Linked DNA regions of Homo sapiens. The protein of the gene in region 2 interacts with the protein of the main gene of each other region in a pairwise test. Each region holds a gene or a part of one and is shown on either strand. Other genes may lie near its edges.

Evidence for each region.
Region 1: the proteins of ABHD16A (region 2) and SEC22B interact in binary tests that used the Homo sapiens proteins (3 or more experiments, as listed by UniProt).
Region 3: the proteins of ABHD16A (region 2) and IFITM3 interact in binary tests that used the Homo sapiens proteins (3 or more experiments, as listed by UniProt).

Annotation. Positions count from the first base shown.
Region 1 is NC_000001.11:120,166,497-120,170,149, forward strand, and holds part of SEC22B (vesicle-trafficking protein SEC22b), read right to left. Parts: intron 2,454-3,653; coding exon 2,344-2,453; intron 1-2,343. UniProt on the Homo sapiens protein: SNARE involved in targeting and fusion of ER-derived transport vesicles with the Golgi complex as well as Golgi-derived retrograde transport vesicles with the ER.
Region 2 is NC_000006.12:31,693,319-31,696,971, forward strand, and holds part of ABHD16A (phosphatidylserine lipase ABHD16A), read right to left. Parts: coding exon 3,630-3,653; intron 115-3,629; coding exon 41-114; intron 1-40. UniProt on the Homo sapiens protein: Phosphatidylserine (PS) lipase that mediates the hydrolysis of phosphatidylserine to generate lysophosphatidylserine (LPS). LPS constitutes a class of signaling lipids that regulates immunological and neurological processes.
Region 3 is NC_000011.10:319,023-322,360, forward strand, and holds IFITM3 (interferon-induced transmembrane protein 3), read right to left. Parts: upstream 1,839-3,338; 5' UTR 1,792-1,838; coding exon 1,543-1,791; intron 969-1,542; coding exon 816-968; 3' UTR 654-815; downstream 1-653.

The DNA.
Region 1 (3,653 bases), on a different chromosome or scaffold from region 2:
GGAGGACATTAAGTTAAATAAAATCAGTCATGCACAGAAAGATAAATATGGCATGTTCTCATTCATATGTAGGAGCCAAAAAAAATTTTTGAGCTCATGGAAGTAGAGAGTAGAATTGTGGGTATTAGAAGTAGGGAAAGGTAGAGAGAAGGGGAGGATGGGCAGAGGCAAGTTAATGGATAAAAAATTACAACTGGATAGGAAGAATGAGTTCTGGTGTTCTGCAGAACTGTAGGGTGAATATGGCTAGCTATAACTTACCACGTATTTTCAAAAAGCTACAAGATTTTGAATGTTCACAACACAAAGAAATGATAAATGTTTGAGGTGATGAATATGCTAATTACTCTGATTTGATTACACATTGTATACATGTATTGAAATATCACTCTGTATCCCATAAATATGTATAATTATTACATGTCAACTGAAAATAAAAGGGAAAAATTTAAAACATAAGGAGGAGTTTAGGGGCCCAAAGCATTATATATACTCCCATCCTTGCCCTTTCTATGTGGCTCCTGAGGCATCCTAGGGCTCCATAAAGGATAAAGACTATTATATGATCTCTCAGGCCCCTTAAAATAATATTAATAATACAGCTGTCTTATTCCTTGCTTGGGCACCTGAGTTAACTGGTCTCTTTGCTTTTAGTCTACACCATCTTCTATACCATCAGTTTTATTCCCAGAGACTACAGATGACCATATTACCCTGCTTACAAACTCTAAGGGTTCCCTAATACCTACAAAATAAAATCATACTCCATGGTATTATATTTACAGCCTTTCAAAACAAGTGTAAGCAACATTCTATCATATATTTTAATAAACCAAATGGCGGACTGTTCTCCAACATGCTAGGTTCTTTACATATTTGTGGACTTCTGCTTATATTGTTTTTTCTAACCGTTAATGCTCTTTTAAATACCTGGAGAAATCCTGTTCATTTTCATATGTTCAATTCTACCATAATTTTTTCTGTGAAACTTCTTTATATATACTCCCCTCCTCTGTCCCGTTTCTTCAAACTTACCCCCTACAAATGGGAATTTGTTCCTTCCTTCTCTCTGTTCCCAAAACATTTCATTTAAATCTAATTTACAACATCTTTTCAATTAAGATATTATAGTATACTTGTTTGAGTATATGTCTCTCTCTCTACTAAGAGAACAGTGTTAAAAGGTATGGACATTAAATGCAGGACTCAATATAAGGTCTGGCAAAGAATAAACCCTTAATAGCTCTTGGATGGAAATAAAGGATGATATGAGATTATGAATGTCCTAAAGGAATCAGGCAGAAGAAAATCTCTTCTCAATTCCATGAGAACTTTCCTAGGTCTTGGTTCTCTAAACCATGGTGAAAATGAGGATACTAGATATTAAGTGAGTGACTATTTTTGGTGTTGAAAATTAGAGTTCTAGAAAATATTTCAGATATTATAAAAATTAATACATCATAAAACATAATGTCCAACATTTTCTTAGCCAATTGCCTAGGGTTTTATTTTTGTTTTGATGTACTTTTTACTTGTCTTTTATAGGTAGAGAATTTTTGTTTTGTTTTTTAAAAGTAAACATAGCAGCTTCCTCCCTGGCCTAAGTTATCTTACTATCTAAGTCCCTAAAATGGCAAAGATTATTTAACTAATCCGTTTTTATTTTCCTCTGATGCTCTTGTACTCTTTTCCTTTTTAATCCTTCCTATTTTGTCAGCTTCAAACTTGGCATGTATTAAACATTAAATACCAATTATTTGTAGATAATTTAAAATCCAATAATGTTCCTTTGAGTCCTCTATCAGCTGTATCATTTATAACCACTGATTAAGATGCTCTTATCTTTTATAATTTTCTTTTTTCAAAATAATAATAACTAATAATTATTGACTCTTCCCATGTGTGTCAGACAAGATGCTAAGTAATACACACAGATTCCCTCACAATCCTCTCAAACCTCCTATGTTTATTTTCACTACTTTATAGAGGAAACTGAGGCTTAGAGAAGTTATGTGAGCTGTTCAAAGTTACACTGTTAGGAAATGTTTGAGCAAGGGTACTAACCTACACATATCTGGCTCCAAGACAGTCCTAAAGCAAGAAGTTATCTATTATTGCATGATGGGCACAGCATAGACACATGTTAACAGGTTAAATTACTGTAAGCATGCTGAAAAAACCAACAAGATGTCCATTTTGTAGAATTAGAGCCAGAGAAGTTGCTCCTCCCAAAAGACAACATTTTTAAGTAATCTTTACTTTTTAAAAATTATTATTTTTTATCAGGCATTCTGTTACTGTATTTCACTTAAATGATCATAAAGAAATCAAGATTACACTCACTGAAAAGTCATGGCTCCTGCTTCCAAGGTACATCTGGTAGGGGACTGTTCATTCAACTTTCGAAAGAGTTGCTTAGCCTGACTCTGATATTGTTGAAGGTCCCGGCCAGACTGAAAGAAGACATCTTCATTTAAGAATTTTCCACAAAATGCTGTATCAATTAGTGAGAAGCATCATATTATGAGGACACTCTGAATGAGGTCCTTCATTTACAGGTAAGTAAGATTCATTTTAACGGAGGAAAGACAACCTACTTTCAGAGTACAGAGGAAGACCTAACCCCTACTTCTTCAAGATGATCGCATTAGTTATTTGCTAAGAAGCAAAAGCATATACCTCAAATACACTTAAGCACTCTTAACTTTCAATCCAGTGTTCTTTCCACTATTAGGACAGTACTCTCCTCCTAACCCATTTCATTTGCAGTTATTGGCACAGAACTACACAGCATGTGCTATACTCAGGGGAATATCCTAGGAACAAGATTGGTGAATTTCATTTTTATGTTGGAATATCCAGCAGAACCTTCCACAAGTGTTACAGTTTTTAGCATTTAAACAAAACTAAATGTGTGTACTAGTGACTGCAAATTATTACGAACACTTTGACTGCAATTACATAAAAATGACCAAGGGTAGAGACAAAGATTAGGATGTCAGATACCCTTTACTGAAGAAATCTATTTGGTTCCCAAGTTTGGACAGCAAAAGTTTGAATATCGAGGGATATATGCAGACAAAAATGAAAATAATAGCATTCACATGTTATAATTACAGGTAATATTTTCCTGAACAATTTCTAACTGCTTTTACAATTATTTTTGTTAAAAAGAGGGGGCAAATCTACTGGAAAAACCAGCAGTGTCATTTCAAAAGAAGAAAACCATGCATCTCCAATCTACTAGATCCAACAGGGAAAGGAAGTGCCTGAAGAATGGGAAGCAAATAGACATTGTTTTTCCATCCACATGTGGGGTAGGGGAGCTTTCTGCCAGCTACCCAGCTATAGTCTGAATGTTTGCTGGTATCCCCCACAAAATTCATGTTGAAATCCTAACCCCCCAAAGTGATGGTATTAAGAAGTGGGACCTTTGGGAGGTGATTAAGTCATGAGGGTAGAGCCCTCATGAATGTGATTAGTACCTTTATAAAAGAGACCCCAGAGGGCTAGCTTGCTCCATCCACCATGTGAGGAAACAGCCAGAAGGTGACATCTATGAACCAGGAATAGGCCCTCAATAGTCACCAAATCTGCTGGTGCTTGATCTTCACCTTGCAGAACTAGAAAAATCAATTTCTGTCATTTATAAG
Region 2 (3,653 bases):
TTCTAAGGGGAGAGATACAGCAAAAGAACTGGGGCCTCACCGGCTGCTGGGTTCTTCCCAGTGGAAGTCGACTGGCCAGCTCCGGAAGTCAAAGTTGTAGTTGGCAAGCTGCCTCTGCAGTGGGCACGAGAGGCAAAGGGGTACTGAGAACTCAGGGGAGGCTCTCCTACCCACCCTCAACAACACCTTCGTTATCCAGGGGTCTGATCCCCACACATCATGGGGAAACCAAGCGGAGGTCAATACCCTCCCAATTCTCAGATGGAAAATTCTAACAGGACCAGAAAATCAGGGGAGATGGTATGCCCCATCAGGTATCAGGACTGGCCTGTCTGCCCTCTTCCAAGCTAAGAACCTAACACTCTGCTTTTCTAAAAAACTAAGTCTGACCCATCCCCAGGAGGAGTGGCTGAAGGTGCTAGTGCTTTTGAGTGACGGGTAGTAGGGGTCGCTGGCTGGTCACGGTCTATTCCCCACCTGGGTCCCTTATAGGGTGCTGTCTTAGAAGCTTAGAAATCTCCCAGCAGATCACACTGACAGACCCAAGGTTGAGTGAGACAGAGAGGAGGGAAGTCACGCCCACAGTGGGCTCCTCTGCCATGTGGGGCCACCCGTTGAAGGAAGCTCTGACTTCCATCCTCACAACTACATCCCTTCCTCAACTCCTGCAGCCATGGATCAGTGTTGCCCTACAGCCCATCCGAACCTCGGGCCACCCCACTGAGCCAGTCCACATGCCTTTTTTTTTTTTTTTGAGGCAGGGTCTCGTGCTGTTGCCCAGGCTGGAATGCAGTTGGTGCAATCATAGCTCACTGCAGCCTCAAACTCCCAGGCCCAAGTGATCCTCCTACCTTAGCCTCTGGAGTAGCTGGGACTACAGACATGTGCTACCATGCCCAGCTAATTTTTAAAATTTTCTTTAGAGACAAGGTCTTACTATGTTGCCCAGGCTGGTCTCCAACTCCTGGGCTGAAGCGATCCTCCTGCCTTGGCTTCCGAAAGTGCTGGGATTATAGGCATGAACCACCTCACCAGCTCCACGTTTTTTGACGGCAGTGGGAGCTGTGTCTTTTTTTTTTTTTTTTTTTTTGAGATGGAGTCTCACTCTGTCGCCCAGGCTGGAGTGCAGTGGCACGATCTCGGATCACTGCAAGCTCTGCCTCCCGGCTTCACGCCATTCTCCCGCCTCAGCCTCCAAGTAGCTGGGACTACAGGTGCCTGCCACCACCATGCCCGGCTAATTTTTGTACCTTTAGCAGAGATGGGGTTTCACCATGTTAGCCAGGATGGTCTTGATCTCCTGACCTCGTGATCCACCCGCCTCGGCCTTCCAAAGTGCTGGGATTACAGGTGTGAGCCACCGCGCCCGGCCTAGCTGTGTCTTAATACTTGACTATATTCGTCCCCCACCCCCTGAGCTCCTAGCACTCTATTTTGAGGGTTTTTATTTTCTGCACAGAAATTTTTTGACATTTCAAAAATAATTTGACTAACAGAGAGCAATAGAAAAATTATACAAAAAGGTAAATGGCAAAACAAAACAAGATGACTAAAAGCAAATTTCAGGCAGGCTTTGCTCAGACCTGCTCTCAAATCTGGACTTAGCCACTTTCTTGCTCTATGACTCCGAATGGGTCACTTAACCTCTTTTTGCCTCTGTTTTCTCACATTTACAAATAAAGGTAATAATGCCACCTCACTCAGCTGTTGTGAGGATCAGAAAGGGTGTGTGCCAAATGCTTCAGCCAGTAGCATAGTACAGGGCATCATTACGCAGCTCCATAGTGTGGAGTAGCCAGGAATGTGATGATGGTGGTCATAGCTGTTTGATCCTAGAAACCTCCCATAACAGAAAAGAGCTCTATGGGGCCCCAAAGCCCATCCTCAAAGATAATCACAGTCCAGCACCAGCCGGCTTGGCATAATTCCCAAGACACTGAGCCCTAGCTTTTCTCCCTCCTGGCACCATGCTGTACTCCCAGGCATAGGAGTGGACACACCTGTCCACCTTGTCCCATCCACAAACAAGGATAGCATGGTATTCAATGCATACAACAAAATTAAACATTTATAGAACTGAGCTGCTGTGATACAGAGAAAACTACCTTCTAAGAAACATTGTGGGCTGGGTGCAGTGGCTCACACCTGTAATCCCAGCACTTTGGGAGGCCAAGGCAGGTGGATCACCTGAGGTCAGGAGTTTGAGACCAGCCTGACCAACACAGCTAAACCCCATCTCTACTAAAAATACAATATTAGCTGGGCGTGGTGGCGCATGCCTGTAATCCCAGCTACTTGGGAGGCTGAGGCAGGAGAATCGCTTGAACCCAGGAGGCGGAGGTTGCAGTGAGCTGGAATCATGCCATTGCACGCCAGCCTGGGCAACAAGAGCGAAACTCCATCTCAAAAGAAAAAAAAAGAAACACTGTGGGCCAGGCACAGTGGCTCACACCTATAATCCCAGCACTTTGGAAGGCCAAGGCAGGCAGATCGTCTGCAGTCAGGAGTTCAAGACTAGCCTGGCCAACATGATGAAACCCTGTCTCTGCTAAAAATACAAAAATTGGCCAGGCACGGTGGCTCACGCCTGTAATCCCAGCACTTTGGGAGGCCGAGGCAGGCGGATCACAAGGTCAGGAGATCAAGACCATCCTGGCTAACATGGTGAAACCCCGTCTCTACTAAAAATAAAAAAATTAGCCGGGCGTGGTGGCAGGCGCCTGTAGTCCCAGCTACTCAGGGGGCTGAGGCAGGACAATGGCATGAACCCGGGAGGCCGAGCTTGCAGTAAGCTGAGATGGCGCCACTGCACTCCAGCCTGGGCGACAGAGTGAGACTCCGTCTCAAAAAAAAAAAAAAAAAATTAACTGGGCGTGGTGGTGTGCACCTGTAATTCCAGCTACTCAGGAGGCTGAGGCATGAGCATTGTTTGAACCCGGGAGTTGGAGGTTGTAGTAAACTGAGATTGTACCACTATACTCCAGCCTGAGTAAGAGTGAGACTCTGTCTCAAAGAAGAAAAAAAAAAAAAGAGGCCAGGAGTGGTGGCTCACGCCTGTAATCCCAGCACTTTGGGAGGCTGGGGCAGGCAGATCGCCTGAGGTCATGAGTTGGAGACCAGCCTAGCCAACATGGTGAAACCCCGTCTCTACAAAAAATACAAAAATTAGAGGGTGTGGGTGGTGCGTGCCTGTAATCCTAGCTACTCAGGAAGCTGAGACAGGAGAATCACTTGAACCTGGGAGGTGGAGAGTGCAGTGAGCCGAGATCGTGCCATTGCACTCCAGCCTGGGCAACAAGAGCGAAACTCCATCTCAAAAAAAAAAAAAGAAAAAGAAAAAAGAAACATTGTGGAATGTTTCTAGTTTAGCCAGTTCTTACAGGTGAGGGAGGGGGAAGATTGTTCTAGCAGAATATTCCATTAGAAGTGGTAGGGAGGAAAAATTCCTCAGGTGGACAGTTCACTAATGGAGGTGAGAAGGGATACAGCAATGTGCAAGCAAACACCCAGTGTGGTGGGTGGTAAAACACACCTCCTCTTCCTGCAGAAGCCAGTGTCTGGTGCTCTGAGGGACAACTGAGAAAGCTGCTATTGGGTGCCTGTGTGGCACTTTTCCTAGGGCCTCTCACCTTGTTTTCTGAAGACTGGTTCCG
Region 3 (3,338 bases), on a different chromosome or scaffold from region 2:
CGGGGGAGCAGGGCCCATACCCGCTGGACGGGAGGGGGCAGCTGCCACGAAGCAGCACCTGGTCACCCAGGAGGGGCTGCGAGGCCCGGGGCTCCTTCAGCTGCTGCCCTGGGCACAAAGCCCCCTCCCTCCCACGGGCCCTGAGCTGCCCACATCTGCAGGACTGGCTGCTCCAGACAGCTCGGAGGCAGGCAGCGCGGTGCCCCCTCCACCCCGAGGAACTAAAGCCAGGTCCCCAGCACCACAGAGCAGGGCCTGGGAGCAGCTGGGGAGCCGGTGCCACCTTGCCCCTCCCTGGCCCTGCTGGGGGCTTAACCCTTCCCTCTGTCCTGAGCCGACAGCCTGGATTGCCGACAGGCCGCGAGCGTGGCCTTGGGCCCAGGGTGTCCCGGACTCAGCACTGACGTTCCCGGAAAGAGCCCACGTTGAGTAGGAGCTGAGACCTGCAGGACACAGGAACTCCTCCCAGGGTCCTGGATCCAGCTGCTGCTCACGGCAGGAGGCCCGAAACCAGAAGGCCTGAGCACTTGCCCGGTCCCCAAGAGATGCACAGAGGCCGGAAGGGGCAGTGCAGGGGCTGACCAACCTGCTCAGTCTCAGAACCACGCTCCGAACCCTCAGCCAGACCCCTCCCCAGGTGAAGTCGCAGCAGCACCAGAAACACGTGCACTTTATTGAATGCCATTGTAGAAAAGCGTGTGAGGATAAAGGGCTGATACAGGACTCGGCTCCGGGGGCAGGGCGAGGAATGGAAGTTGGAGTACGTGGGATACAGGTCATGGGCAGAGCTCCTGGCCTCAGTGATGCCTCCTGATCTATCCATAGGCCTGGAAGATCAGCACTGGGATGACGATGAGCAGAATGGTCATGAGGATGCCCAGAATCAGGGCCCAGATGTTCAGGCACTTGGCGGTGGAGGCATAGGCCTGGGCCCCGGTCACGTCGCCAACCATCTTCCTGTCCCTAGACTGGGGGAGAGGAGATGGTGAGGGGACCAGGATCCCCCAGCTGAGAGCCGCGTGCTATGGCTCCGTCTCCTCATTGGCTCTCCCCGCCCTGAGATCAGGGACCACCTCCTCCCCTTCCTCACCCGGGCTCAGACTCTCCAGGAGCCTCGGGGCTCATCCTCCTTCTGCCTTGACCTCAGCACAGGCTGTTCTCCCCACCATGGGGTGAAGTCACCTGTGAGTTCCCTTCTCACTTTCTGGGAGAGCCTGGGTGCCAGTCTGGAAGGTGAAGGTGTAATTTCTTACTGGGCTATAGGGAGAACTGCTCTGGGCTAGTGGATAGCCGGGGACAGACTCTGAGCCAGCCAGCCAGCCTCCTGGAGCCTCCTCCTAAACCTGCACTGGGCAGATTCCCCAAGCCACACACACACACAGATCACACAGACAAAGCCACTGACGTGGGCACACACGGGACAGAGGTGCACACAAACTCACAGTCACAGGGACACACAAGTCCCCACCCCAGGCAGCATGTGGGCAGGTGGAGCTCCAGGCTCAGCGGCACCCTCTGAGCATTCCCTGGGGCCATACGCACCTTCACGGAGTAGGCGAATGCTATGAAGCCCAGGCAGCAGGGGTTCATGAAGAGGGTGTTGAACAGGGACCAGACGACATGGTCGGGCACGGAGGTCTCGCTGCGGATGTGGATCACGGTGGACGTCGGGGGAGCAGGGTTGTGGGGCGCCCCCAGCACAGCCACCTCGTGCTCCTCCTTGAGCATCTCATAGTTGGGGGGCTGGCCACTGTTGACAGGAGAGAAGAAGGTTTGGACAGTGTGATTCATGGTGTCCAGCGAAGACCAGCGGCGGTCGGGTTACTGGGATGGTTCTCAGTGAGCCCTCCCTTTCCCCAGTAGTTTCGGTTTCTCAACAGTTTCCTTTTCCTGGCATTTGTCAAATCGGGATTTGGCCGGGGCCAGATGAGGGCGGAACAAATTCCTGAGGATCAAATTACTTTAGGAGAGGGAGGAAAGAGGGGCTGAGGGCTAAGAGGGGCTTCCTCTCTAGAGCCCAAGGGAGCACAAGGCTCATCTTGTTAGTGGTGTGGGGTCCTGGAGACTTCCCCTGTGTTGGGGGTCTCCACACCCCAGGCCAGCAGCTGCAGGACCCCACTGTCCCGGTTCAGGGCTCCTGCCAGGCCTGCGCTGACGCCTCCACACTCCAGGCCCCACAACCGTTCCCCCAAAGCCCTCACCTCTGCCGGGCGCCGCGGCTCACGCCTGTAATCCCAGCACTTTGGGAGGCTGAGGTGGGAGGATCATGAGGTCAGGAGATCGAGACCATCCTGGCTGACACGGTGAAACCCCGTCTCCCATAACCCTCACTGTGGTGCCCAGGCAGCTGGATTATCCCATTACCTTCACTATGGTGCCCAGGCAGCTGGATTATCCCATTACCTTCACTATGGTGCCCAGGCAGCTGGATTATCCCATTACCTTCACTATGGTGCCCAGGCAGCTGGATTATCCCATTACCTTCACTATGGTGCCCAGGCAGCTGGATTATCCCATTACCTTCACTATGGTGCCCAGGCAGCTGGATTATCCCATTACCTTCACTATGGTGCCCAGGCAGCTGGATTATCCCATAACCCTCACTGTGGTGCCCAGGCAGCCGGATTATCCCATTACCTTCACTATGGTGCCCAGGCAGCTGGATTATCCCATAACCCTCACTGTGGTGCCCAGGCAGCCGGATTATCCCATTACCTTCAGTGTGGTGCCCAGGCAGCCGGATTATCCCATTACCTTCAGTGTGGTGCCCAGGCAGCTGGATTATCCCATAACCCTCACTGTGGTGCCCAGGCAGCTGGATTATCCCATTACCTTCACTATGGTGCCCAGGCAGCTGGATTATCCCATAACCCTCACTGTGGTGCCCAGGCAGCCGGATTATCCCATTACCTTCAGTGTGGTGCCCAGGCAGCCGGATTATCCCATTACCTTCAGTGTGGTGCCCAGGCAGCTGGATTATCCCATTACCTTCACTATGGTGCCCAGGCAGCTGGATTATCCCATAACCCTCACTGTGGTGCCCAGGCAGCCGGATTATCCCATTACCTTCAGTGTGGTGCCCAGGCAGCCGGATTATCCCATTACCTTCAGTGTGGTGCCCAGGCAGCTGGATTATCCCATAACCCTCACTGTGGTGCCCAGGCAGCTGGATTATCCCATTACCTTCACTATGGTGCCCAGGCAGCTGGATTATCCCATAACCCTCACTGTGGTGCCCAGGCAGCCGGATTATCCCATTACCTTCAGTGTGGTGCCCAGGCAGCCGGATTATCCCATTACCTTCAGTGTGGTGCCCAGGCAGCTGGATTATCCCATAA